2 separate regions of the Homo sapiens genome follow, and region 2 is linked to region 1. Evidence: fine-mapped expression QTL. A gene starts in region 1. The other region holds a variant in brackets. All regions are shown on one strand. Distances are from middle to middle. Region 1 holds the start of EXOSC3 (exosome component 3). Region 2 overlaps FRMPD1 (FERM and PDZ domain containing 1).

Evidence for each region.
Region 2: its variant is fine-mapped to the expression of EXOSC3 in monocytes after interferon gamma (Fairfax 2014, PIP 0.95).

What each region holds. Positions count from the first base shown.
Region 1 is chr9:37,776,731-37,792,953 of GRCh38, reverse strand. It overlaps EXOSC3 (exosome component 3), which reads left to right and starts at 7,890. Exons shown (of 4, transcript NM_016042.4): 1 at 7,890-8,233; 2 at 8,891-9,040; 3 at 10,817-10,968; 4 at 12,074-13,240. The coding sequence starts at 7,910. The coding sequence ends at 12,275. TRMT10B (tRNA methyltransferase 10B) reads right to left here. Exons shown (of 9, transcript NM_144964.4): 9 at 13,982-15,353. The coding sequence ends at 15,247. It overlaps LOC105376037 (a long non-coding RNA gene), which reads left to right. Exons shown (of 3, transcript XR_929599.3): 3 at 1,712-3,908. RefSeq lists enhancers at 7,998-8,137, 7,635-8,150, 8,148-8,207.
Region 2 is chr9:37,730,071-37,740,425 of GRCh38, reverse strand. FRMPD1 (FERM and PDZ domain containing 1) reads right to left here. Exons shown (of 16, transcript NM_014907.3): 9 at 9,323-9,442; 10 at 7,986-8,122; 11 at 6,827-6,953; 12 at 6,601-6,696; 13 at 4,692-4,874; 14 at 3,183-3,330; 15 at 1-348. Among named protein-coding and RNA genes, the nearest start is that of TRMT10B, 19 kb to the left of the region's middle. The variant A/G (reference allele first, on the strand shown) is at 6,498.

The sequences.
Region 1 (16,223 bases):
TCATCTGAACCATGAAAATGGGATGGGGTGCCTTTTCAATTATTTAGATCTTTGTTAATTTCCTTTAATAATATTTTGTAGTTTTCAGAGTTTAAGTTTGACATTTCTGACCGGGCACAATGGCTCATGCCTGCAATCCCAACACTTTGGGAGGCTGAATGTGAGGATTGCTTGAGCCCAGAAGTTCAAAATCAGGCTGAGCAACATAGTGAGACTCCCATCTCTACAAATTAAAAAAAAAAAAAAAAAGTTTGACATTTCTTTTGTTGAATTAATTCCCAAATATTTTCTTTTCTTTGATGCTATATAGTGGAATTATTTTTGAAGTTTTATTTTTGGGTTGTTCATTTCAAGGGTACAGAAATATAATTAATTTTTGTATATCCTATAAACTTGCTGAACTTGTTAGTGTTAGTTCTAATGGTTTTGTGTGTGTGTGTGTGTTTGTGTGGGTGGGTGGGTGCCTTAGGATTTTCTATATACCAGATCACATCACGTGCAAATATAGATGGTTTTAATTTTTCCTTTCCTATCTAGATATCTTTTATTGCTTTTACTTACCAAATTACCCTGGACAGAACCCCCAGTATAATGTTGAATGGAAATGGCAAGAGCAGACTTCCTTGTCTTATTCCCGATCTTAAGTGCAAAGCTTTCAGTCTTTCACTATTAAGTGTTATCTGTGGGTTTTTCATAGATGCCTTTTATCAAATGGAGGAGGTTCTTTTCTAATCTTATTTATTGAGGTTTGGTTTTGTTTTTGTTTTTAAATCACGACAGGGTGTTAGACATTCTCGAACGCTTTTTCTGCATCTATTGAGATGGCATAATACATTAATTGATTTCAGATGTTAAAAGACCTTGCATACTTGGGATTAATTCCACTTGGTCACAGTATACAGTCCTTTCTATATGTTGCTGGATTCAGTTTGCTAGTGTTTTGTTGAAGATTTCTGTGTCTGTATTCATAAAGGATATTGATTCATAAAGGAAAAGGATAGTTTCCTTTTCCTGTGATGTCTTTAGTTTTGATATCAGGGTAATACTAGCCTCATCAAATGAATTGGGATGTGTTCCCTCCTCTTCTGTTTTTTGTAAGAGTTTGTGATAACTGGTATTGATTCTTATTTAAATGTTTGGTATAGTTCACCAGTGAAGCCATCTGGGAATGGGCAGACTCTACCTTATTGCTATTACTGATGAGTTTGATATTACCACCTGATATGGTTTGGCTGTGTCCCCACACAAATCTCATCTTGAATTGTAACTCCCACAATTCCCATGTGTCATGGGAGGAACCTGGTGGGAGGTGATTGAATTATGGGGTAGATCTTTCCTGTGCTGTTCTCAGAATAGTGAATAAGTCTCACAAGATTGGATGGTTTTAAAAATGGGAGTTTCCCTGCACAAGCTCTCTATTTGCCTGCTACCATCCATGACTTGCTCCTCCTTGCCTTCCGCCATGATTGTGAGGCCTCCCCTGCCATGTGGAACTGTAAGTCCATTAAACCTCTTTTTCTTCCCAGTCTTGGGTATGTCTTTATCAACAGCATGAAAATGGACTAATACACCACCTCATGAGACCTTGTGCCAGTTATCAATGTATTGTCTCTCAGGTCCAAATTCATCCTTCACTGACTGCTCTGAGAAAATGGATCTGAGCCTTAAATTTTTTTTCCTTTGTTCTCTTTCGTGATGATATGCTTTATAGGTAGAAGGCCCTGAAGAGGCGTTTCAGGAGGAATGGGTTTTGCTTCCTGGTCCAGTTGTGCTCACTGGCACACTTCTGCAGCACAGCAGCTTCTCCAGCATCTGTTCCTGCTTTGATTGGTGGCCAGAAACACTCAGCAGCCAGCAGTGTTCCTTAGCACCCTATTGGGCAGTTTTATAGCAGAGGCTTCCAGGAGACCCCTCCCCATGAATACGTTTCCTCAGCAACGTAAAAGTGCCAGAAAATTCTAGAGGGTGGATTTATAGGAAGTTCCACTGGAAGATTCCCAGTGACTTCTTGCCATTTAATGAGCCACAGCCACACTCTCTTCAAAAGGGTCTCAATCTGCCCTGGCTGGAGGCGAGAGGCTCCTCTTTGGGAACTCTATCACAGCATTAGAGTAGCAGCTGTTCCTTATATCTGCTATTGCTATACTCTTTAAAGCTCTCTAGTTCTTATTAGCCAGTGCTTCATTATTCTAATACCCTGTTATAGCTAATAATTCCTCATATATTAAACTGTCTTTATTCAAATGAGCATGGTTTGTCTTCTGATTAGACCTTGACTGATGAAGATATCTTAAGCTTTTCCATGGATCCATCTATGCCTGGACCTTGTATATAGAAGGAATTCAATGAATACAGTCCCTTAATAGCATCATGACACACAGTTTTCTTATGTAGTTGTCACAATTTCAGGCCCTTTCATCCTTACATTTATTGAGCAGTTATTGTCTGTGTTCAGGAATCTTGCTGTGTGGCAGGAGATAAGAGGAGAGAATCAGTAGCTAGAAGAATACAACAGCTAAAGTGGCCTTGGTGAATAGTCCAGAATGATAAAAAACTTAGATCACTAAAAAAAATTGCATGAGATGACACTGCAGAGATAAGGTAGAGTCAGATGATGACAGGCCTTGACTTCTATTGGGACAGGCAGTTTGCTGTGGCCTTGAGCATCTCTGCATGTGCTTGCGAAGTATGCCAAACACAAGGCCTAACTTTCCCCTAATACTGAACCATTTCTAGCTAGTCACATCGGCATTTAACTAGGTTAAGATGACCACAGCATAACTACCATACAACAGCTCACTCCCTCAGGGAAGGAGGCTGGTTGGTTTGCCACTTGCTACAAAAGATGCTAGGCCCTTAGCCCTGGATCCCTCAGTCATGGTGCAAACCACTGCATGTGCAACCACTGTCCGGGCCCATTGCATTTACTCCATAGGACTTGAGGACAGGCCAACCAGTGCTACCTTGCTGGTACTCCTACTGTATGCTGTGTTGAATAATAAATTTCTTCATCTGATCCACCAAATCTCATCTACATTGGTACCAATGGAGTTGTGGCTGGTGAACCTGCTTTCTTGCTTAGTCGTCTCCGTTGGAGTCTTGTTATTTCTTGCTATTCTCTAGGAGGTTGGGGCTCTTCTCTAACAAAGGGTGCCATGACACAGGCACACACACACACTACAAAATGAAAATAAACATGAACTAGAAAGATGTTTCCTTATTCAAGAAATGCAGATAAATGGCAAAGCTGTTGGAAACCAGAAAACCATGTAATTTTGAGTATTTAAAATCAATCCTGTATTGTGATACACTAAGACCAAACTTGAATGTTATTCCACATAAGAATCTAGCCAACAGAATGTAGTTCAGATTTGGGAAATGATGGTGAGGAAACTATATTTTATGGAATTGCTAATACATTTAAAACAGTAGTTGGTAAGAAAAAAGCGTGTTCTGGGCCAGGTGTGGCGGCTCACGCCTGTAATCCCAGTACTTTGGGAGGCCGAGATGGGCGGATTACCTGAGGTCAGGAGTTCGAGACCAGCCTGGCCAATGTGGCGAAACCCCGTCTCTACTAAAAATACAAAAATTAGCCGGGAGTGGTGATGTGTGCCTGTAGTCCCAACTACTTGCGGGGCTGAGGCAGGAGAATCGCTTGAACCTGGGAGGCGGAGGTTGCAGTGAGCCAAGATCAAGTCACTGCACTCCAGCGTGGGCAACAGACCAAGACTCCGTCTCAAAAAAAAAAAAAAAGTGTTCTTTTACTTTTTACAATAAATCCTGTTTGAGAAGTTATGATCCTTGTGTAAAAATATCTGTAGCAAGTAGTCTGTCATTTGTGCAGTGATAACTGTGGGCATTTATGTTTTTAGATTAAATCCTGTATTTGAATAAAGATGTTAACAATACTTTCATGGGCTTTTATGGTTAATTTCAGTATGTAAATTAGCATGTAGTTCATTTATAATTTTAGAAACTAGTAAAGTAAAAAATATTAAAGATTCACTCAAATTATTACTTCCTTTGTAACACCTATCCTAACCCCTGCCTTCCTTCCATGTAGAGACAACTATTTCATCCTCTGTACCCTCAGGGCTGACACTCTATTCAGGTTGTTGCATCCACCTTAACACTTGCTATCTTCATGTGGAGAGAGTGAACTCCCCCAAGGGCAGGGACCAGGACTCAGCCGCCTCCCCAGCTCAATTCCTGGCTGAAAGCAAATGCTCAACTAGTGTTGGTTAAAAGGAACAAATGCCCAACCTCACCAGTCGGTAAAGAAAAGCAACCGTGAGATGCCACGTTTCTAACTTCTAAACTAGCAAAGATTAGTTATGAAGAGGAAGTTCTGGGAGGAGTCCAGAAAGCTACACTCTGGTCCAACCTTTCCAAAGGTCAATTTGGCAATTTCCCCATATGTCATACTAATGTTGTGTAACCCCAAATTCAGTCTCATGTACCTGATGCAGAGCTGAAGCCAAACGCTAAGACACAGGTGCTTGGAGATAGAGAAAGGTTTGTTCAATTGGGCCAAAGCAAGAAGGCGGAAGAGCAAGATCTCTCAAATGTTACTTAACAAAGAGATGACAGCAGGCGTTTTTATGGGGTAGGGTGTGAGGGAGGGTTTCCGGGAACAGAGGGGAAAAGTCTGTGCCTCTACAGTCTCAGATAAAACTTTGAGCAACCAGACTTATGGGTGTCAGCAGCTGGTCAAAAAGTCCTTAATGGCATTCATTCCTTCTGCAAAATATTTTCATGACCCTGAAGTTATCTCTCCTGCTAGACAAAGAAACAGGACAACAGCAGTTTATAATTATATTGTGGGAACAAGAGATATTGGGCAAAACGGGAGCGCTTACTATGTGCATGCAGGCAAGGGCCTGATCAGAATTTTCACTACGGCCGGGCGCGGTGGCTAACGTCCGGAATCCCAGCACTTTGGGAGGCCGAGGCAGGCGGATCATTTGAGGTTAGGAGTTTGAGACCAGCCTGGCCAACATGGCGAAACCCCCTCTCTACTAAAAATACAAAAGTTAGCCAGTCATGGTGGTGCATGCCTGTAATCCCAGCTACTTGGGAGGCTGAGGCAAGAGAATCGCTTGAATTTAGGAGGTGGAGGTTGCAGTGAGCCGACATCGTACCACTGCACTCCAGTCTGGGCGGCAGAGCGAGACTTTGCCTCAAAAACAAAAAACAAAACAAAACAGAAAAAAAAAAAACACCAAACGGAATTTTCAATACTTCAGTTACTAAAAATGCCAGACTACTTAAATCTCAAGGGGCCTGGTTACACTCCGAATGGGGAGACGTAGGCCAGAGGCACTGGAAAGGTGAGCAGTCTCGACTGCTTCGGCTCGAAACCAGTAAGCCTCTGAAGAGAACGGGCGTAATCCACCTCGCGATTGGCAAGGAAACACACGCACCCGCAGAGGGCAAAGCGCGCACGCCGCCTGCACCGGGCTCTGGCCTCCTCTGCATTCCCCAGTCGTTGCACTTTTCCCACTTTTATAACCAGGAGAGGAGGCACGCGCTGCCCGAAAACGCGAACCGCGACCCATGGGACGCTAGAACCGACCCGCGCGCCCTCGACGGCTTGAAGCCGGGTTCGAGACACTCGTTCGCGGCCTAGGGCTCCCGCCGCCTAGGACCGGGTGCTCACTCTCGACAGGGCGCAAGACCGCCAGGTGGCGAAACACCTCCTCGGTTGCGCGCGGTCTGGTGGGCAGGCTGCGGTCCCGCGTGCCCCACCCGCTCTGGGCGTGTCAGGGTGGTAGGTGTTCAGGAGTGGAGCCCCGCCCAGCCACCGCCTTCGGGTCCCGGCCTCCCTGTTTCATCTGCCTTGACCCGCGAGAGAGCTACACCGCTCGCCACGTGCGGCCTCCACAGGGTAGTGGGCCTCATAGGACTCAGCCGCTAGATCTGGGCCGAGTTTCCTCCAGAGACTTCACTACCGACATGGGGTGTATCAAAGACGGTCCAGAGAACATTTACCGACCTGCCTGTTTGCCTGGCCGGAATGTGAGGTCCTTGAGCGCCCTTGAGCCATGGCCTTGGGCCTGCCAAGATTGAGGCAGGCGTGGTCACCGAATACTTCTGGAGTGGGGAAGAGAGCACAATTTACGCTGTCCCTGCCACAGGAGCTCCCACTCTTGCCAGGGAAACTAACCTGGAGGTGGGAGCTCCTTTTATTTGTTGACCTTTTTTTATACCCAGGGGAAAATGGCTTGCCAAATTTGGAGGGTGTGTTAGAGATGATCTGTCTTAATCATCCTAAAAAATCTAAAAATTCGGCCGGGCTTGGTGGCTCATGCCTGTAATCCCAGTACTTTGGGAGGCCAAAGTGGGCCTATCGCTTGAGGTCAGGCGTTCAAGACCAGCCTGGCCAGCATGGTGAAACGCTGTCTCTACTAAAAATACAAAAATTAGCCAGGTGCGGTGGTGCACTCCTGTAATCCTAGCTACTCGGGAGCCTGAGGCAGGAGAATTGCTTGAACCTGGGAGGCGGAGGTTGCAGTGAGCCGAGATGGTGCCACTGTAGTCCAGCCTGGGCGACAGAGCGAGACTCCGTCTAAAAAAAAAAATCTAAAAATTACGTTGGAAGCAGGTGCCTCAAAGAGATGAGCAGTAGAAAGGGAGGGCCGCTAAAGGCAATCGGTCAGTCACGGCCTCCCAGACCCTAGGAATTCTACCACTGCTGGAGAATCTGATCAAGCACTAATTGAAGGTTCGAGTTGACAGAGAAAACGGTGATTTAAAATAGAACCCCCAAAGTCAGATAGATGATTGGAATCTCTTTGGGTTTGGAATTCAACTGCTTCTCACGTGCGCAACTAAGTGTGCTCCAGGGAAATTTGAGTTACTGATATTCCAGGCCATGTAGGGCTATCGGAAGCATGTGAAATATGTATATTTGCAGGGGGAAAAAGTCTAGGGAGAAATACACACCAAAGGAATACATTCGTTCATTCATCAGGTATTACCTATTTCATGCCACACCTTGGGCTCTAAAGAATCAGAACTACAGTGTAGCAAGGGAGAAAAACGGGCAAGATTAAAACATCGTTTATTTTCTTCTTTTATTTTTCTCTGTGTTTTCTAAATGTGACTAGATCTCTAACAACCAAGAAGGTTTTATTTATTTTGAAAAAAACTACTTTTCCTGTTAAAAGGTCAGCCACTCTTCTGAGGGCGGAGTCGGAAAGAAGGTCCCATGAACCCACCTAGCGTCCAATTTCCCTTTTTTTTTTTTTTTTGACAGGGTCTCACTCTGTCCTCCAGACTGGAGTGCAGTGGCACCATCTAGGCTCACTGTAACCTCCGCCTCCTAGGTTCAAGTGATTCTCCTGTCTCAGCCTTCCGAGTAGCTGGGATTACACGTGCGTGCCACCACGCCCGGCTAATTTTTGTATTTTTAGTAGAGACAGGGTTTCACCATGGTGGCCAGGCTGGTCTTGAACTCCTGACCTCAAATGATCCACCCGCCTCGGCCTCCCAAACTTCTGGGATTACAGGCGTGAGCCACCGCGCCCGGCCCCAGCGTCCAATTTTCAAAGCCCCTCTGCTCAGCTTCCAGAGATCCCAAGAAACTCTTAAGTGGAAGTATCTCGTATCCCCACGATGCGACCGGTCACAAAACACGCGACCCGAGACACTGGAAGTGGAGGCTTTTCGATGGACCAAGCTGCGCGGTTTTCATACCGACCCGCGGCCAGGCTGTCAGATAGGTGGCCGGCCACAATCACTGCCACCTTGGACAGGGACCCGTGAGCTGACGGCCATCAAGCTTCATAAACTGGTCCGAATCCAACGGACCGCTACTGCCGGAAACGGAAAGTCCTCAAGGGCGGGTGTTGGAAGCGGAGCGGAAGCGGAAGGCGGGTACCGGAAACGGTGTTTGGTGGAGCCCGCGATGGCCGAACCTGCGTCTGTCGCGGCTGAATCTCTCGCGGGCAGCAGGGCGCGCGCTGCACGCACAGTACTAGGTCAGGTGGTGCTCCCGGGTGAGGAGCTGCTCCTGCCGGAACAGGAGGACGCGGAAGGCCCTGGGGGTGCAGTGGAGCGACCGTTGAGCCTGAATGCTAGAGCGTGCTCGCGGGTGCGCGTTGTATGCGGTCCGGGCCTTCGGCGCTGTGGGGACCGCCTGCTGGTCACCAAGTGCGGCCGCCTCCGTCACAAGGAGCCCGGCAGTGGCAGCGGCGGCGGTGTTTACTGGGTGGACTCTCAGCAGAAGCGGGTGAGCTGGGACTCCGGAGGGGTGGTGCGGCAGTGAGAGTGGTAGCCCTGCTTTGAGAAGACCTCCCAAAAGAAGAGAGGGACCCTGAGGCCCTCTTTTGTTCAGGCAAACCTAGAGCCACCGTAGTCTTGTGCCCACTTCTGCATGTCCTTTAGAGGGACCGTGAACAATAGGAACATAGCCTGAGAAGGGCGACCAGGAGAGAAAAACGTTTGGAGACCGTGAGTCATGATTATAGTCTTCAAAACCCCACAGCAGGCCTGCCGTTTGGAGTCTCAGAGGGCAGGACTAGGCTCAATGAGTGGATGTCATAGGGAGTTAATTTCTCCTAGAACAGGTAAGAATTTCATATAGAAAAAATTGTCTATGGAATGGGCTTCCTTGGTTGTAAGGATTCCTTTGCCACTGGACTTATGCCACAAAGCTAGAGACTTACTGGTTGGGGTGCCTAAGAGATAATGGAGTTTGGACTCAATTAACAGACTACCAGAAGCTGCACACCCGGCACTTTATGAAGTGATTTTCTTTTACCGAAAGTGGCATTTGATCAGATTTCTCTTTAATGACAATAAAGTAACCACAAAGGACTTGCTGAAGGTATCTTCCAATGGTATCTTGTCATTTATGGCTGTTTTTTCATTCTGTTTCTTTTTGTAGTATGTTCCAGTAAAAGGAGACCATGTGATTGGCATAGTGACAGCTAAATCTGGAGATATATTCAAAGTTGATGTTGGAGGGAGTGAGCCAGCTTCTTTGTCTTACTTGTCATTTGAAGGTGCAACTAAAAGAAACAGACCAAATGTGCAGGTAATTACGGGAGCCTTTGGTTTCAAAGAAACAAACATCCATTCCCTAGAACACTCACATATCCAGAAGGCTATCTGAATTGTCTCCAAAGCATGACCTAGATCTCTGAGCTTGTATATAATTGCCCCAGGCTCCAAGAGTTTCTTCAGATGCTCCAGGATCAGAGCCACATAATTATTATTATTATTTTTTACATTTACAATTTATTTTACATTGGCTACATTTGTTCTTGGGATGTTTCATTTCTACTGAGTTGAAAGGTTGTATCTATCATCGCCATTATTTGTTATGTCCATATCCTCTGGACAAGGATGTCTGCTGTAGGCTTAGAGGAGGGACAGGTGGTGCAAATTGACATTATCAGCTATCCATCCATCCTGGCTGTAGGTCCTAGGAGCTGATAGAGGAGTAATATTGTTACCTTGGGTTTTCAATTTGAGCTTTTCAGGTAGCATAGCCACACTCTTCTTGTCTATCCAGCCTGAAATTTAGTGATTTCTTCACCTCTTCTCATTCACTTCTCATGCAAATTTAGTTGCTTAATCCTATTTTGATCCTATTTGATTCTGTCTCTGATCTTTGGCATGTCCGTCCCTTTATCTCCACAAGTTCAGGCTTCAGCTCCCTCTTGACTGGTCTCAGTCACTTCTTCATTAATCCCTGCCTCCACGCTTTTACCTCACCATCCAGGATTTTGAGAGCTGACATCCTCACACGGTCACTTTCTCGAAAAGACAAGATTCTCCAAAATCTACAGAATTCCTTGGCATTACACTCCAGGTGTCTTTCCTCATCCCTAATTATATCCTTCATACAGCCATACTCAAATCACACCAAACGCCATTAAACTCAATTTCCTGCCCTTATTTGCACATGCTGTTCCCACTGTCTTGATTGCACTATCCCTTCGCACCCTATGGAACACATTCTCATTCTTTGAGACGTAGGCTAAACATGACCACCTCTGTAAAGCCATCTCTAGTTGCCACTTTTCTCGTATCTTTGCTCTAGCACTTACTGGATTGAGCCTTGACTGAGGTTTGTTTATATGTACCTCCCCACTGCCCTCCAAGACCAAATGCTTCTGAAAAGCAGAGAATGTTTTGTTCCTTTCTAGTTTACATAGTCACCAACAAACAGTAGGTACTTAATACGTTTTGTTGAGTGAACAGAATGAGTTCACTCTCCATTTCCTCAGTTTCGTCCCTTTGAAGTTTAGCTCTATGAGGTTTTTAAGTAAATCCTGCAGGGAGAAGTGTCAGTGAATTATTGTTTGATTTTGCTTTGAATAATTTGCATGCCGGAGTTCCTTCCTTTCTCTGTAAATCTGTAATTCTCTAGGGTAGTGCGACCTAATATAACTTTCTACAGTGATGCTGTTTTGTATCTGCACTGATTAGTATGGTAGCCACTAGCTGTTGAGCACTTGAAATGTGGCTAATGCAACTCAGGAAATTAATTTTAAATACCTAATTTTAATTTAAATGTAAGTTTAAACAATTGGCTATCTACCATATTGGACAGTGCAATCCTAGTGTTCTCTGGCCTTGAGATGGCTCCTCGTCTGTGATTTCCTGATTGGTGAAAGGGAATGATACATGTGTTCCTTTTTTTCCCCAAGACTCAACTCCAAAGTGACTGTGGGAATCCTATAGTGCAGTCAGTCCCTTAGCCACAGAACTGTAGGTGGCTGGCATTGATGCCTGTGAGAAAGAACCAATAGTAGCACCTGTAGTTTGCTGAGAGGAAATGAACTGGTTTTTAATATCATTGTAGGTTGGAGATCTCATCTATGGCCAGTTTGTGGTTGCTAATAAAGACATGGAACCAGAGATGGTCTGTATTGACAGCTGTGGACGAGCCAATGGAATGGGTGTCATTGGACAGGATGGTCTGCTTTTTAAAGTGACTCTGGGCTTAATTAGAAAGTAAGTCCTGATGTCTGCTGGCTTGACTGCTTTTTATAATTATACATTCTTGGAAAGTTGGTTAATCTTCAGGATTCAGATTCTTTGTAACGTTTGAATTTCTCCTCAGAGTTAGAAATCAGTATCCATTTTAACACATTTGGAAACTCATGAATTTAATCCTATCTTCTTGGAAACATATCAAATTCAGATGTGTTTGGCTGTGTAGTTTCTGGTGGGCTGATACTTCATGCCTTAAGCTCTTACTCTGTATTCATATCTTCCTTCCCAGGCCTGTTGCTTATTTGACTTAGCCCAAATGTGAAAACTGGCCTTTCCCCTGTTCTGAGTCACTTGAATACAGATGCAGTCTGCAGTTGTATAAAATTATCAATTTTTTCTAATTATGGGGGTCACACGCAGCTTAGATTGTGATGTTCAAGGTTATGTAGACATTCACAGAAGGCTTCTGACACTTGGTCATACTGAGGCATACTGAGGTTCATGCTGAGGCAGATTCTCTTTTTGGTGTTTAGAACTTTACCCACCCAAAGCTGTGCCATATTCAGGGGCTTTACTCCTAGAGCCAGTGAAGTTGAGAGCTATCTTGTATGCCTCTCCTTACTACATATCCTAAAGATCTGGAGAATTAAGTTTGGACATCAGAGAAGCATGTTTTTAACCAAGAAGCATGTTATTAACCAAGCACCACCCTTATGGTTTGAAAGAGCCAATGTTCCTCTCCAAGTACTGAATTTAACACAAGAGAATAATATGGCCAGGAAAATAAGTTTAAAGTGTCTTAACACTGTAGATAAAAAAAGTTATGATTCCCAGTCTAGAATTAAAGTGCTCTGACCATCTAGGGGAATGACTTTTACAAAGTTGGTAACCTAGGGAGTTTGATTTCTTTGTAAGGCATAGCCCACCTCTGTGATTTCTAGTATACCTTTGAACAGTGTAAAGTTCCTTCTTGGAAGAAAGGAGGCAGCAAATGTCATCACGTGCCTTGTTCTTGTTGAACAGCTATGGAGAACTGCTCAGAAAAGGAATCACATTCTAAAGGAGACTCCGGACACACCTTTGCCACTTCATTAAATTTCATTTTCTTTTCTCTTCCCACCAGGCTATTAGCTCCAGATTGTGAAATCATACAGGAAGTGGGAAAACTCTATCCACTGGAGATAGTATTTGGAATGAATGGAAGAATATGGGTTAAGGCAAAAACCATCCAGCAGACTTTAATTTTGGCAAACATTTTAGAAGCTTGTGAACACATGACGTCAGATCAAAGAAAACAGATCTTCTCCAGATTGGCAGAAAGTTGATATAGGTGGACTTTTTTACAGGTCAGTTGAGGCAAAAAACTATGGGTTTTTTCAGGTGAACCTCCCCCATTTAAATACTCAGAAGATAAGGTGTGAATGTATGTATTATTAGAGTCCGAAAGTATTTTTATAAGTTACTGGTTTTCACCCACGCTTTTGTGGGAGAGAAAATCATTGCAAAATCATTTTTTTTGTTCGGTACAATAAAGTTTACTAAAAAACAGTATTAGGGTTTATTTGGAGTTAACTCCCTTAGTAATTGCTACAGCTTCCATAATTAACTGGAGGTCAGCAGTAAAATAATTTTGTGATTATAACAGTAAGCCAGGTTCACCAGAGGAAATGTGGAATACCTAAGTATAAAGCAGCAAAGAAATGTCACCTGTAGTCCCATTATTCAGCGGGTGAGTATATAACAACGAAATACTTTTTCATTTACCAAGTATTGTGTTTTGCATGGATTAACTCCTTTATTCTAACTGCAGAAGACACTTATCCTCATAATTGAAACTGAGGCACAGAATTTAACTTGGCCTACATTCTCTATATTCATCAAATTGAAATTATAGTTATTATAGCTTATATGCCACTTTGTAATATACTTTTGTCTACTTCAAACAGCATGATACATTTCACAACTTTAGTCACATATTTCATGTTACAGGATATTTTTGAGTTTTATCATTATATAAATAACACTATGAGGATTTCTGAATCCAAATCTGGCCAAGTCTTATTTTGCTAAAATCATTTCCTAGGAGCTAAGCATAGAAAACTCTTCTATGCTATTTAGTATATTAACCAAAACCTTTAGAGGTAAAGAGACTGCCAGGTGATCCACATCAGTGATTCTTGGTTTCTAGACCTCTGAGAATATGTGAGATACAGATCCCCTGAAGCCTATCCATAGAAAGTCCTTTTTGGATCAAAGAGATTATAGAACTCTATTTGTTGATAAAGACCAAGGAGCTTCGTGTGTTTCTAATGTTTTCTAAGGACTGGATGGTTTTTAGTTCAATAGCTTTTAGGGGTACAAGTGGTTTTGGATTACACGGATGAATTGTATAGTGGTGAAGTCTGAGATTTTGGTGTACCAGTCACCTGAGTACTATATATTGTACCCAGTATGTAGTTTATCCTTCCCCCTTCCCTGTTCCGGGTCTCCAGTATCTGTTATACCACTCTGTGTGCTTACCTGTAGCTTAGCTCCCACTTAAAGTGGGAACATTTGGTATTTGGTTTTCCATTCCTGAGTTACTTCACTAAGAATAATAGCTTCCAATACTATCCAAGTTGCTGCAAAAGACATTTTTTATGGCTAATATTCCATGGGATATATATACCACACTTTATCCATTCATTGGTTGATGGGTACTTAGGTTGGTCCCATATCTTTTATTATGAACTGTCTAGCCAGTTTTTAAATAGAAAAGTACTGATTAGGTGAACAGTTCCTTAGGAATTAAATTGTGAAGGGGAGGGGACACAGCAGAGAAGTAATCTGTTGGTTCTTTTGAGATATTGAATACATGTCCCAAATTTGCTAGCTGCTTAACTAGCAAGTTAACCCAAACTGTCAGAGTAACTGAAGCAAATATGTCCAACTGGGACATAAGGAACATGAGATTTGTGTAATAAGTAGGTTATCTAACGTGTTCATGTGTCTAACACTTTCTAGCTATTTTCAAGACAGACTTAATCAATACTGTGTTTGCTTTCCAATTTAATCTGTTACAAATACATATGAAGAATCTAGTTGGTACAGGCTCAGGGAGGATAGAAAGATAGGTACACAGATTTGTCCTGTTAGGATCCTACCATTAGGAAGGATTAGGAAGAGAAGCCCTCCATGCCCATACTCTGCAAGGGAGAACAAGGTAAGAGCCACAGGAGGGAACAAAATGCTATGGGGACTCAGTAGGGATAGGTCAGAACAGGCTGGATCCTGCAAAGCTTATTACTGAGCTGGGCAACAACGAGCATGATCAGACAAGGCTGGAGAAAGTCATACAATTTTATGATGCCAGTTTAGTGAATATTAAACTCTTGATGTAACCATTTAAACAATTTCAAGAGGTCTCTCACAAATAGATGTACAAAAGTTGAATTAGCACGTCCAAAGCCATGTGGTTTTGAGGCTAATTCCTTGTTACATAATTTTTTTTTTTTTTCCCCTCGAGACAAGAGTCTGGCTCTGTCGCCCAGGCTGGATCTTGGCTCACTACAACCTCCGCCGCCCGGGTTCAGGCGATTCTCCTGCCTCAGCCTCCTGAGTAGCTGAGACTACAGGCACGCACCACCATGCCCAGCTAATTTTTGTATTTTTAGTAGAGACGAGGTTTCACCATATTAGCCAGGCTGGTCTGGAACTCCTGACCTTGTAATCCACTCACCTCAGCCTCCCAAAGTGCTGGGATTACAGGCGTGAGCCACTGCACCCACCACATTAACTTTTTATTACTTAACATATCTGAGCACTTCCTGTGAGCCAGGCACTATGGGAGATTAAAAAGCATTAAATGTGGTCCCTGACATTATTGTGAAGCTCTGAGAAGATGTCATGCAAAGACACTTGCCTATGTGCCACTGCCACCCTCTGCCCTGCTCTTTGGGTCAAGGTACCTCCAAGCGCCTCACTCCTGCAGCTGCATTTTTTTTTATTTATTTTTTTTTTGAGATGGAGTCTTGCTCTGTCACCCAGGCTGGAGTGCACTGGTGAAATCTCGGCTCACTGCAACCTTCGCCTCCCGAGTTCAAGTGATTCTCCTGCCTCAGCCTCCCAAGTAGCTGGGACTACAGGTATGCGCCACCACACCTGGCTAATTTTTGTATTTTCAGTAGAGAAGGGTTTCACCATGTTGGCCAGGCTGGTCGTGAACTCCTGACCTCAGGTGATCTGCCCACTTCGGTCTACCAAAGTGTTGGCATTACGGCGTGAGCACCTGGCCACGCAGCTGCAATCTTAGGCCCATCATTCCACTGAGTTCCGAAGAATATAGCCTTTTCCTGAAGAAACTCCTTTCTTCAATGCTTCAGGCCAGTTGTGAGTCTCTAAGTAAGTGGACAGGATATCAAACACTGTTAGAGAGTAAACAGAAAACACAGTGACCACAGAGGGAAAAAAAGAACGAGTAAATGAAAAGGATGTTCTGTAATATTTCGTTCAACAAACCTATTCTGCACCATATGTGGTACTAAGGTCTTGCGGGGAGAGGCAAGGACACAGGCTCTGCTTGCTCTCAAGGACCTCAGCCTACCCTGAAAGATACAGGCCTATGAATGGATAGGGTGCAACAGAAAGGAACACAGTAAAATGGGAAACAGAAGGGCTCTGCTGTGGCCTGGGATGGGGAAGGGCCAAGATGCTCCTGAACTGAACCCTGAAGATCAAACAGGAATTCAGTGGTGAGAGGTTAAAAGCTGGGCATTCTAGATGAAGGGGACAATTTTTTTTTTTTTTTTTTTTTTTTTTTTTTTTTTTTTTGAGGCGGAGTTGCACTCTTGTTGCTCAGGCTGGAGTGCAATGGCACGATCTCAGCTCACCGCAACCTGCACCTCCCAGATTCAAGCAATTCTCTTGCCTCAGCCTCCAGATTAGCTGGGATTACAGGCGCCTGCCACTATGCCCTGCTAATTTTTGTATTTTTAGTAGAGACGGTGTTTCTCCATGTTGGTCAGGCTGGTCTCGACCTCCCGACCTCAGGTGATCTGCCCACCTCAGCCTCCCAAAGTGCTGGGATTACAGGTGTGAGCCACCGTGCCCAGCTTTTTTTTTTGTTTTTGAGACAGAGTATCACTGTCACCCAGGCTGGAGTGCAGTGGTGTGATCTCGGCTCACTGCAACCTCCACTTCCCAGGTTCAAGTGGTTCTCATGCCTCAGCCTCTGGAATAATTGGTATTACAGGCGTGCACCACCACGCCTGACTGATTTTTGTATTTTAGTAGAG
Region 2 (10,355 bases), 50 kb after region 1:
GCGAGCCAAAGTGGAAGAAGGTGGACCTGCTGGAGGAGCAGGTGTCTAAGTCATCCTCTTCCAGAGCGTCCATGGACTCACTCGAGCCACTGGTCCTGTAGCCGCGGCTCTCAGTGTTGGCTGAGTCGGACGCCTCGGACTCGGCACTGTCTGTCGTGCTGCTGGCCCCGCAGGTGCTGGGGCCCCTCCTAGCCACCTCAGGTGTGGGGCTGTTCCCAGGAGGCTGCTCCTCCTTTATGAGTGATCTGCAGGGTGCCAGTTTCACCAGGCGCCTGTCAGAGAGAGGTTCGAGTACGCAGTCCACCTCAGAGGACTCCTCTGAGTCACTGCAGGCCCTGGATTCATAGCCTGCAACACAGGGTACAGCAACAGTTACACAACAGAATTCTCCTACCTATGTGTCCTTCTAGCCCCCTGACCCCCACCCAACCCTGCCAGACGAGAAAACTGAGGGCCAGAGGGTGGCTGGCCTAAGACCGTCCTATACTGACGAACACGGGATCCGAGGGACTCCAGCTTCCATGTTCTCCCCATGCTATCAGACCGCCTGTCCCACATCTCTCTGAGCTAAAGGAGGCTGGATTAACTCCATCCCCACCTCCAAGGAGAACTGTCTGTTCATGGAAATGTGGTATTTACTTTGATTCCTCTTTGTGTGGGCAGCACTGCCCAGGTTTGCTAAGCCCCTCCCCAGACCTCAGTTCTATCCTGCCTGGGCGTCAAAGTCAGATGGGGAATCATATTTTAAAAATACAACAGATCCTTGGCCCTACCCCTGATGTACTGAGTCAGATCGCTAGAAGTGGGGCCTGAGAATCTGTATTTTTAGCAATTTTATGACGAGTACGAGGCTGCTAGGCTGGCACCATTCTAAAGCCTGGCCTTCTGGATCCATGGGTGCTATGGGCTTTGTAGGACAGTGAAAACTCATCCAGCGGCAGGTTCTCAGGAAGGATTAATGGTAGGAGGCTGGGGAGCACTGAGCCAGGTTGCAATCTCTTTATTCCTGTAAGCCTCCAGAGTGATCTTTCTCAAACTTCTCTCTGACCTCATCACACCCTGCTTAAACCCTCTGATGGCTGCCCTGCTTACGGGGAAGAGCCTGGCCTCCCCCACAACAGTTACAGACTCTCACAGTATGGCCTTGTTGCCCTTCTCACAGGATGGCCATGGCGCCTCATGCACAGTCTAGTCCTCCCTTGCCTCAAAGGATGGCCCTAAGGCCTCCTCTGCAGGCTCTTCCCCCTCTCCCAGGATGGCCCTGAACCCTCCTCTGCAGTCTAGTACCCACGACAGGATGGTCTTGACACCTCCCCTTCAGTCTAGTGTCTCCCTCACAGAATGGCGCTGAGGTCTCCTCTGTAGTCTAGCTGCCCTTCTCGTGGTGGGGCTCCTATCTCTTTTCACCATCTCCCTTTTCCCCTCTTGCAATATGGTCCAGCCCCTCCTCAGGCACCCAGTCCCCCATGGCAGCCTTCCCTGCCACGTTCCAGCCACCCATAGGGAGAGCTCCTTTCAGGTCATGGCCTTTTCCTCGGGTCATTCCTCCAGGCCCCCTCGGCCTTGAATGATCTGTCTTCCTTTTCCGTGCCTGGTTAACTCCAGCATGTTCTTCAAGATCTATTTCCAATACCTCTTCCTCTAGAGAACTTTCTCTGACAGGCAGCAGCAGTCCCCCCCACAACCCCTCCACAACAGCCCTGTTGCCACTCTGCGTTGTCTCCCTGAGCAGACTCTGAGGAGTCACCCCTCGTTCATAAATACATTGTGTAACAACAAAGGTAACAGGCTGGGCGCCGTGGCTCATGCCTGTAATCTCAGCACTTTGGGAGGCTAAGGTGGGCAGATCATTTGAGGTCAGGGGCTCGAGACCAGTCTGACCAACATGGCGAAACCCCATCTCTACTAATGTACAAAAATTAGCCGGGCGTGGTGGCAGGTGTCTGTAATCTCAGCTACTTGGGAGGCTGAGGCAGGAGAATCACTTGAACCCAGGAGGTGGAGGCTGCAGTGAGCCAAGATTGCACCACTGCACTCCAGCCTGGGTGACAGAGAGAGACTGCCTCTAAAAAAAATAAAAATAAAAACAAAGGTAACAGATACTCCAAACTCATCACTTTCTAACTGTTTTACTTATTGTATTAGTACCTATTCTCTTGAGCTGATTTCTACTTTATCCATATAGAGGAAACACTCTACAGTGGTGTGCTATTGATCACCTCTTCCCATCTCCACATTCATCATGGTATCATCATATCGTGGTAGCCTGAAATTACCCATCGTGAGAATGTTGACACCATGGAATTGGGCAATTCCTTCAAACTGTTTTTGTCCCTCTGCAGGGAGTTGTTAAGCATTTATCAGCACAGCCCTAGGTTCATGCTGCATCAATGGTGCTGAGGCAAAAGCCTGGCAGAAACTGGGAGCTGGCCTAGGAAACTGTCTTACCTGCCTTGCAGAGAAGTTCTTTTATACTTCAAGAGATTGCAAAAGAGTGCATAGGTAAGGAAGAGAAGCCAGGTCATCTACTTCCTGAACAAATAAGTGACATCTCTTTTTGATGAGAAATAATGATAATCTTTTTTTTTTTTTTTTTTTTTTTAAGATGGAGTTTCGCTCTTGTTGCCCAGGCTGGAGTGCAATGGCACGATCTCGGCTCACTGCAACCTCCACTTCCTGGGTTCAAGCGATTCTCTTGCCTCAGCCTCCCAAGTAGCTGGGATTACAAGCATGTGCCACCATGCTCGGCTAATTTTGTATTTTTAGTAGAGATGAGGTTTCACCATGTTGGCCAGGCTGGTCTCAAACTCCTGGCCTCAGGTGATCCACCTGCCTCAGCTTCACAAAGTGCTGGGATTACAGGCGTGAGCCACAATGCCTGGCTGAGAAATAATGATAAAATGCAGTGGATCTGAGAGACAATCTTAGGAAATACAGCAGGGAACTAGAGCTCTTCCACAGCATTCCTTGGTTTCAGGAAAATTTCAGATACAAAGAAAGCTTCTTTGTTTAGTATTTATGAAAGATCAATTGTTTACTAGGAAATAAACAGAGAAATAGCTCTCATCCACTTGAGCTGAAGCCTCGGCTCAATTCAATTCACCACCTCCCTTTAGGCTGCCCTTACCTACAAGGCCAGTGAAAGGGGCCTGTCCTTATTGGGGCAAGACTCAGTGCCTCACCTTCTTCTGCAGATACCCGGTGCGCTTGTTGTTTGTTTCCAGGCCAGAGGAAAATGGAGGTAACTGGGTCAACCAACAGCCTGTAGTACCCAGCAATCAGGCAGGCTAGGTCTTTTGCACTGTTGGATTCCAGCAGCAAAGTCAGAACCTTTGAAAGCAAATAGAAATCTCATGTTTATCAAGGACCAAGGGACAGTCTGAAGACTGACAACAAAGCCATGTGGGACCAACGAGAGATTCCAGGTAAATCCGGCCATGGTCCACAGGTAGGTCTCCTGGTGCCCCATATCCTCACTTGCAAGGCTTTAAATGAGGACATGCATGTACTCGTACAGACACCATCGCGTGTGTGTGTGCGCACACATACACACACACACACACACACTCTCACGCACTCACACACTCACTCACACACAGTGGGTCCTTCCCACCCAATCTATACAGTGTCTTCTGACTCCTCATCCTCTACCCCAGCGCCATATCCAAACTGCCCCATCCCACCCTGTTCATTCCTGCAGAGGGACTTGCAAGACTGAACTTAAAAAAGAAAAAGGAGCAAGAACATGTGGAGAATGAGGGAGAGGGTGATAAGAATAAAGCACCAATATTGAGTATGTTGGGATTAAATCAAAGGAGGGCAGAATAAAAGTAAGACCTTTGAGAGAGGCTCAGGAGGTACCCTGCACTAGTTACCTTTTTTTTTTTTTTTTTTGAGACAGAGTTTTGCTCTTGTCACCAGGCTGGAGTGCAATGGTGCAATCTTTTGCTCACTGCAACCTCTGCCTCCTGGGTTTAAGTGATTCTCCTGCCTCAGCCTCCCAAGTAGCTGGGATTACAAGCGTGAGCCACCACACCGGGCCCACTATTTACCCATTTTAATGCCCACCACTCAAAGCTTTTGAGCAGCAATCTGGTCCCATTCATGTGATAAAATCCTCTGGTGGGCCGGGCGCGGTGGCTCACGCCTGTAATCCCAGCACTTTGGGAGGCCAAGGCGGGTGGATCACGAGGTCAGGAGATCGAGACCATCCTGGCTAACACAGTGAAACCCCATCTCTACGAAAAAATACAAAACATTAGCCGGGCATGGTGGTGGGCGCCTGTAGTCCCAGCTACTTGGGAGGCTGAGGCAGAAGAATGGTGTGAACCCACGAGGCGGAGCTTGCAGTGAGCCAAGATCGTGTCACTGCCCTCCAGCCTGGGCAACAGAGTGAGACTCTGTCTCAAAAAAAAAAAAAAATCCTCTGGTGTTCTCCATCTACGTTTCTAAATCCAACAGGAAAGCACATGGTCCATCTCAGTTTGTGCAAAAAAACCTTTTAGGACCTCTTCAGGAAAATTTACCATTTACCACTTTCCGTTTGATAGAACAGGATGGACAATTCGTCCTCTTAAGCAGATATTGGACATTAGACTTTATTATTATTTAAAATTCATATAAACTAGCCTGGCCCCTATTTGGCCCCAAATTCCAGCAGTTGAATTCAGAATCTCTCCCCATTGTGTTACCTTGACGTCCTGAAGATACACTTTGACGACGCTCACTTTCTCAGACTCTTCCGTTAGCTCTACACGGCTGATGTTTGCAAACTCTGCCAATGTGGACATGATGTTGAGTTTGCTATTGATAACCTGGCTAATCCCATACTTGGCTCCAACTAGAAGGGCAATGTAGGATTCTCTATCCTGTAACTGCAGAGGGTGGAAGGGGAATTAGTCTCCATTCGCAAGCGAGTGAAAATACATTTCACATGTAAGCAATAATACCTCTCGCTGCAAACTCCTTGATTCCTACTTTGGATCCTAACCACCACTCCTCCAGACTATTGCCTAACTTGGACCCCATCAACAGCTAAATCAAAGTGTAAATTTATTTCCCCAAAACTCTTTCCAATATAGCCCTGAGCCACAGCCATAAACACATCTGTATTTTCACACCTATGTACCTATCTTCCTGCTCTTTGAATCCCTTCCCTGCCATCATTTCCCATTTAAATCCTGATCCTTCTTTAAAAGCTTACATCAAAACCTACTGCCTATGGAAAGCATCTGCCTGATCTCAGCCTCCTTAAGCCAGAAATCTCCCTTTCCTCTCTGTTGTTCTGTACCACTTCCTCTTACTTCTCTACTAGCACTGAACACTTATGACTTCTTATTTTAATTATTTGTATTAAGTCTCATTTTCCACATTAAGTTTCTTGACAACAGAGTCTGCATTTATCTCTATTTGTAACCCGCAGTGCCCAGCAAGCACCCTGAACCTGTTCCATGTAGCTGGTTGCTTCTCCCACTACCAGTTCTTTCCTTAGACAAGAAAGGTAAAGGGAGACTGGGGACTGGAACTGGACAGCTGGGAGAGGGTAGAATTAGCCCTTAGAAAAATTGGGAAGTTTTTCTTGTACCTTCAAAACTTTCCTTTCTGTGATCTAGTCTCTTTCCCACCTTTTGGGTCTTCTACTTAAACGAAGAATCCATCTGTGTTTCCCCTTCCCCTAACTATCTGATGCTCTTCCTTTCTTTCAAAACACTGATTCTCTTCTTCCATCTACATTGTTAGGTTAGCAGTCTGATTACATTGGCCCATCACTGTAAATGACTGAGATGCATACCAAATCTTTTGAAAGGATTTTGGTTAATATTTTTTTAAAACCCCACTCTAATTGTAAATTGGTTTTGTGCTGCAGAGTCCTGGGGCTGACAGTGCTGGAGGAAAGCTCTCTGAAACCATACCCCCGAGACACTGACTGCTGAAAGGCACAAGCTCTAGGCCTAGGCTCCAAAAAGAAGCAGGCAGGAGAATGGGAAGAGAGCAGAGGGCTTTTCTGCTTCTCGTTTCTCTTCTCAGGCCCACCCCTCATTCCTCCCTTCTGAACAATCAGAGACTCAGCTTGGCAGTCAAACACTCTTATTTTTCTTTCATGATTTCCAATTTTCCTCTTCACCTTCATATACCCAAAGCTCCAGAGTGAACTGCTTACCATCCCCTTCTGACCCAGAATGCCTTTTCCTCTCTACTGAAGTCTGGCCAAATTCAGGCTTCCTCTTGCCTCTTTCCTTAACCCCTTCTCCTCCCTATACTTACCCTGAAGCAAGCAGTGCTACCTTCTGTCTCCAAACTCCACAGCAATAGGCCTGAACCTGTCTCATGGCTTTGCTTCATTTTGTTGGGTAGCTTGTTTCATCCTTCAAGGACGGAAATCACATCTTATTCAGCCCTGCTTCCCCTAGCATCTATCACAGGGGTAGCACCAAGCAAACGCGTGGTAAATATTTTCCAGTGGTGTACTATTTAGTTTACCAGACAAATTCTAGTAC[A/G]TGACAGAGTCCTCAGGAATTTTAGGCTAAAAGACACATTGATTTTCAGAGGATCTCTAAGGTCCCTTACGTGAGTAGGATTTCACAGTTCTCTAATACATACCATTAAAGTAGCATTAAAGATTCTTCCACCATATGTCTTGAGTTCTCCGAGGATCTGTAGATAATTTAAACGTAGCTGGGCAGCAGAAATAAGTTGCTTAATAGAGAAAAAAAAACACTTGAAGTCAGAGTTATTCATTGGTCTAAAATCCAGGCAGTGTTGAAAATGTTTTTCCTAAGGTTTCACAGACGACAGCTGAGTGGGTCGGCAGAGGCACCTTCATTACCTTCTGTCGGGGTTCCAGCAAATTCTGGTTCCTCTTCATGTGGAAGCTAATGGCTTTCTTGATGTCTTTGCCTTTCATGTTTCGGAGTAAAGTTGGAGATATAAAGTTCTCTATTCCCCAGTCTTTCCTGCCATGAGACATTGGAGACAAGGAGGCCCATTTCTACAGGGTACTTGGCTCTAATGAAGAGCATAATTACATTTGATTCAGTACTTAGTGTTCCCATAATACAGCAATTACGAGCCACTTTCTCCTCCTCTCTTTTTCTTTCTCACACACACATACACACACTCTCCACAAAAATCCCCACAGGCATTCAGGAACTAAACCCCATTGATCATTCTGGGAGCTCATTACTCTTGGTGTGGTGTGACCATCTATCAGTCAGAGCAGGAGTTCTGAATCTTTTTCACTACAAAATACATGGCAAATAATGACAGCATACAAGAGAGTACAAGACACTCTCATGGGGCAACGCAGAGCTCCTGTGAATCCCCTAGGCTAAGCTTCAGCATGGTGCCAGCCTAGCAGCTTCAAAATCCCCCAGAAAATTGCTAAAACTACAGATTCTCAGGCCCTGCTGCGAGAGATTGGACTTAGTACATCAGGGGTAGGGCCAAGGATATGCTGTATTTTTAAAAATATGATTCCCCATCTGATTCTGATGCTCAGGCAGGACAGAGCTGAGATCTGGGGAGGGGCTTAGCAAACCTGAGTGATGCTGTCCAGAACAATTCTAAGCTAAGAATCAGAAGGTGCTGGAATCGTAGGACTTGAAACTGCTCTAGTGGAGACATAATGCAATAGGAACTGGTTCATATCCACGGGAAAAATTAACTTCCAAGGCATTCCCACCCCTAGAAAAGCTTAACACTGATGCTGGCAACTGATTTCCCAAGACATCTTCCCAGGAACAGGCAATTTACAAGGGAATCCTGTGACATTCCATCTGGAGTTGGCTTCTGTCCCAGAGAGAGCAGCCAGGTTCAGACATCTGGGGGAGCCAGGTCAGATTAGAGAGGGTGCAGAGGGAAATGGATGGAAAGACAACAGACAGATGGGTAGGTGGGTGACTATCAGCTTTCTGTGGCATCTGGCCCTCCTGGCCAGGGGCCAGCAAGTTATAAATGCAATGCAGCTGCCATCCCCTGCCACTCACTCTATATACTTTAAAGAGATCTTCTGTGGCTGGGCACAGGCGTAGATCCGTTCCTGGATGTGCAGAGCCGCGAGTCGGAGTGCAGAGCTACATTTCATTTCTACAGCAAAGCGCTCCTGGAGCACATCGCTGCAGCTCTAGAAGAGATTAAATAGAGCAGATGGGAAACAAAAGCAGACATACTGTGTCCCCTCGTTCTCTCGGGTGAAAGGCAGCAGGACCAGGAGCTCCGCTTTGAGAGCTGGCTCTGACAGTTCTTGGCTGTGTGACCTTGGTTAAGTTACCAAGACTCTCCAAGCATTTGGTGTCTGGTAAATGAGGATAGTAAAATCTACCTTATGTGGTTTCTGTGAGACTTAAATTAGATAATGCATATGAAAGCAGGTATAAGGCACACAGTGTTATACAAATATAAAGTATTGATGGCGTTGTTATTGCTATTATTATTATTTTCTGCCACCATTTCTGTAAGACTTGGGGCAGTCCAATCCACCTAGTCTGAGTTATCTCATCTGTAAAATGGTGATATCTGCCAAATGATTCTTTTTCTTTTTTTTTTTCTTTTCTGGAGACAGAATCCCGCTCTGTCACCCAGGCTGGAGTGCAGTGGCATGATCTTGGCTCAATGCAAACACCACCTCCAAGGTTCAAGTGATTCTCCTGCCACAGCCTCTCAAGCAGCTGGAACTGTAGGTGTGTGCCACCACGGCTGGCTAATTTTTTGTATTTTTGGTAGAGACGGGGTTTCACCATGTTGGCCAAGCTGTTCTCAAACTCCTGACCTCAAGTGGTCCACCTGCCTCGGCCTCCTAAAATGCTGACATTACAGGCGTGAGCTACCGCACCCGGCTCCAAATGATTATTTTTCATCAGAATAAAAATGGCATCATAACTCTCATCTAAGGAGGTAGAATAGGGGGAGCACCAGGCCACGGATCAAGAACCAGGTTTTGGCTCTGCCACTAAGTGAGTGACCCAGGCAAATCACACGACCTTTCCAAGACTCAGTGTCATCATTCTAAAACGAGGTTTTAAAGCACTAAGGCCCCTTTTGGCAATAAAAACTGTAATTCTAAAGATCCTAAAATGGTATTAGAAAATGTATCATCTACATTGAGGACTGAGCCTGAATTTCATTCTGATATCGCACACCTGCTAAAACAGCAACTCAGTGATGGAAAAGGGAATTCTGAGCGATGATCAGGCCCATTCTCCTTCAGATAAAGAGAATCCCTACCAGGGAGTTGTTTAATGGCCTCGAGCTCACGTTCAAAATCACCCAGTGCACCATCTTTGAGAACAACCACTGTTATTTTAGGAAGCACAGACCCAGTCACCTGCAGATAGAGGTATTCAAAGGCCACGGGGTCTTCTTTCAGGAGGTCCAGGGGGTCCTTGGGAACAAAACAGACCCTGAAGAGGCAGCGGTAGTCATGTGACTCCTCCCTTTCTACCACCTGCGATGGGTAAGGGAGATACTATTAATCTCCTAACTGCCTTTGTCCTTGCAGTCATTCCACAAAACCACTCTATAAAACACAGACAGTGAAAGACAGTTCCCAGAGATTTCAATTCTAGTGCTTCCCAAGACAGCCATAGACCTTTACTCCTAATTTGACTTTCTTTTTCCTGGGTACAAAATGTAAAAGGTTCAAAAGGGCAGCATTTCCCACTCACCTATCTTCCAGTTTCCCTTTCCAGAGGAAACTCCTGTTTTCAGTTTCTTGTGTGCCCCTTCCAGAGACAGTTTATGTATATTCATGCTTCAGTATAAGTCTATTCTTTTATCTTCCACAAATAATAATATAGTATACATACCATTCTACAACTTACTTTATTTCACTTAAACTATCTTAGGGATTTAATGTGATTTTCTTTCCCAATGCAAATGGAATAGAAGTAATTAAAAAGTCTGCAAGCAGTAAACCTTCTAATCGGTGAGTGCATTGGGTAAGAATTCATCTGCAAAGAGGAATGTTCAGGGTGGCTTTTATGAGGTTATGTATTACTCATTTCCAACTGTTAAAATCCTCCTCATCTTTGTAACAGACTCACAAAGATTTGTTGAACTAACCTGTGTTTAGCTTTAAAAAGTTGGTACAACATATTATTGAATGGTTGGGAGATTGAGTGATATAGACCGTTTGGCTGTGTTTACCCTATTCTGCCATCAGGAACCATATCGGGGGTAAGTCCCACAAGAAGGGCTTAGACACAGCAACAAATGCTTCCCTAATGGCTCAAAGGCAGCAGGTGCAAGGGAAGATCATCAGAGCTAGAAGCAAAAGATCAGGGTTCTATCAGCTGTGTTACCTTGAGAAAGTCACCTTACCTCTCTAAGCCTTTGTCTCCACATCTGCAAAATGGGGA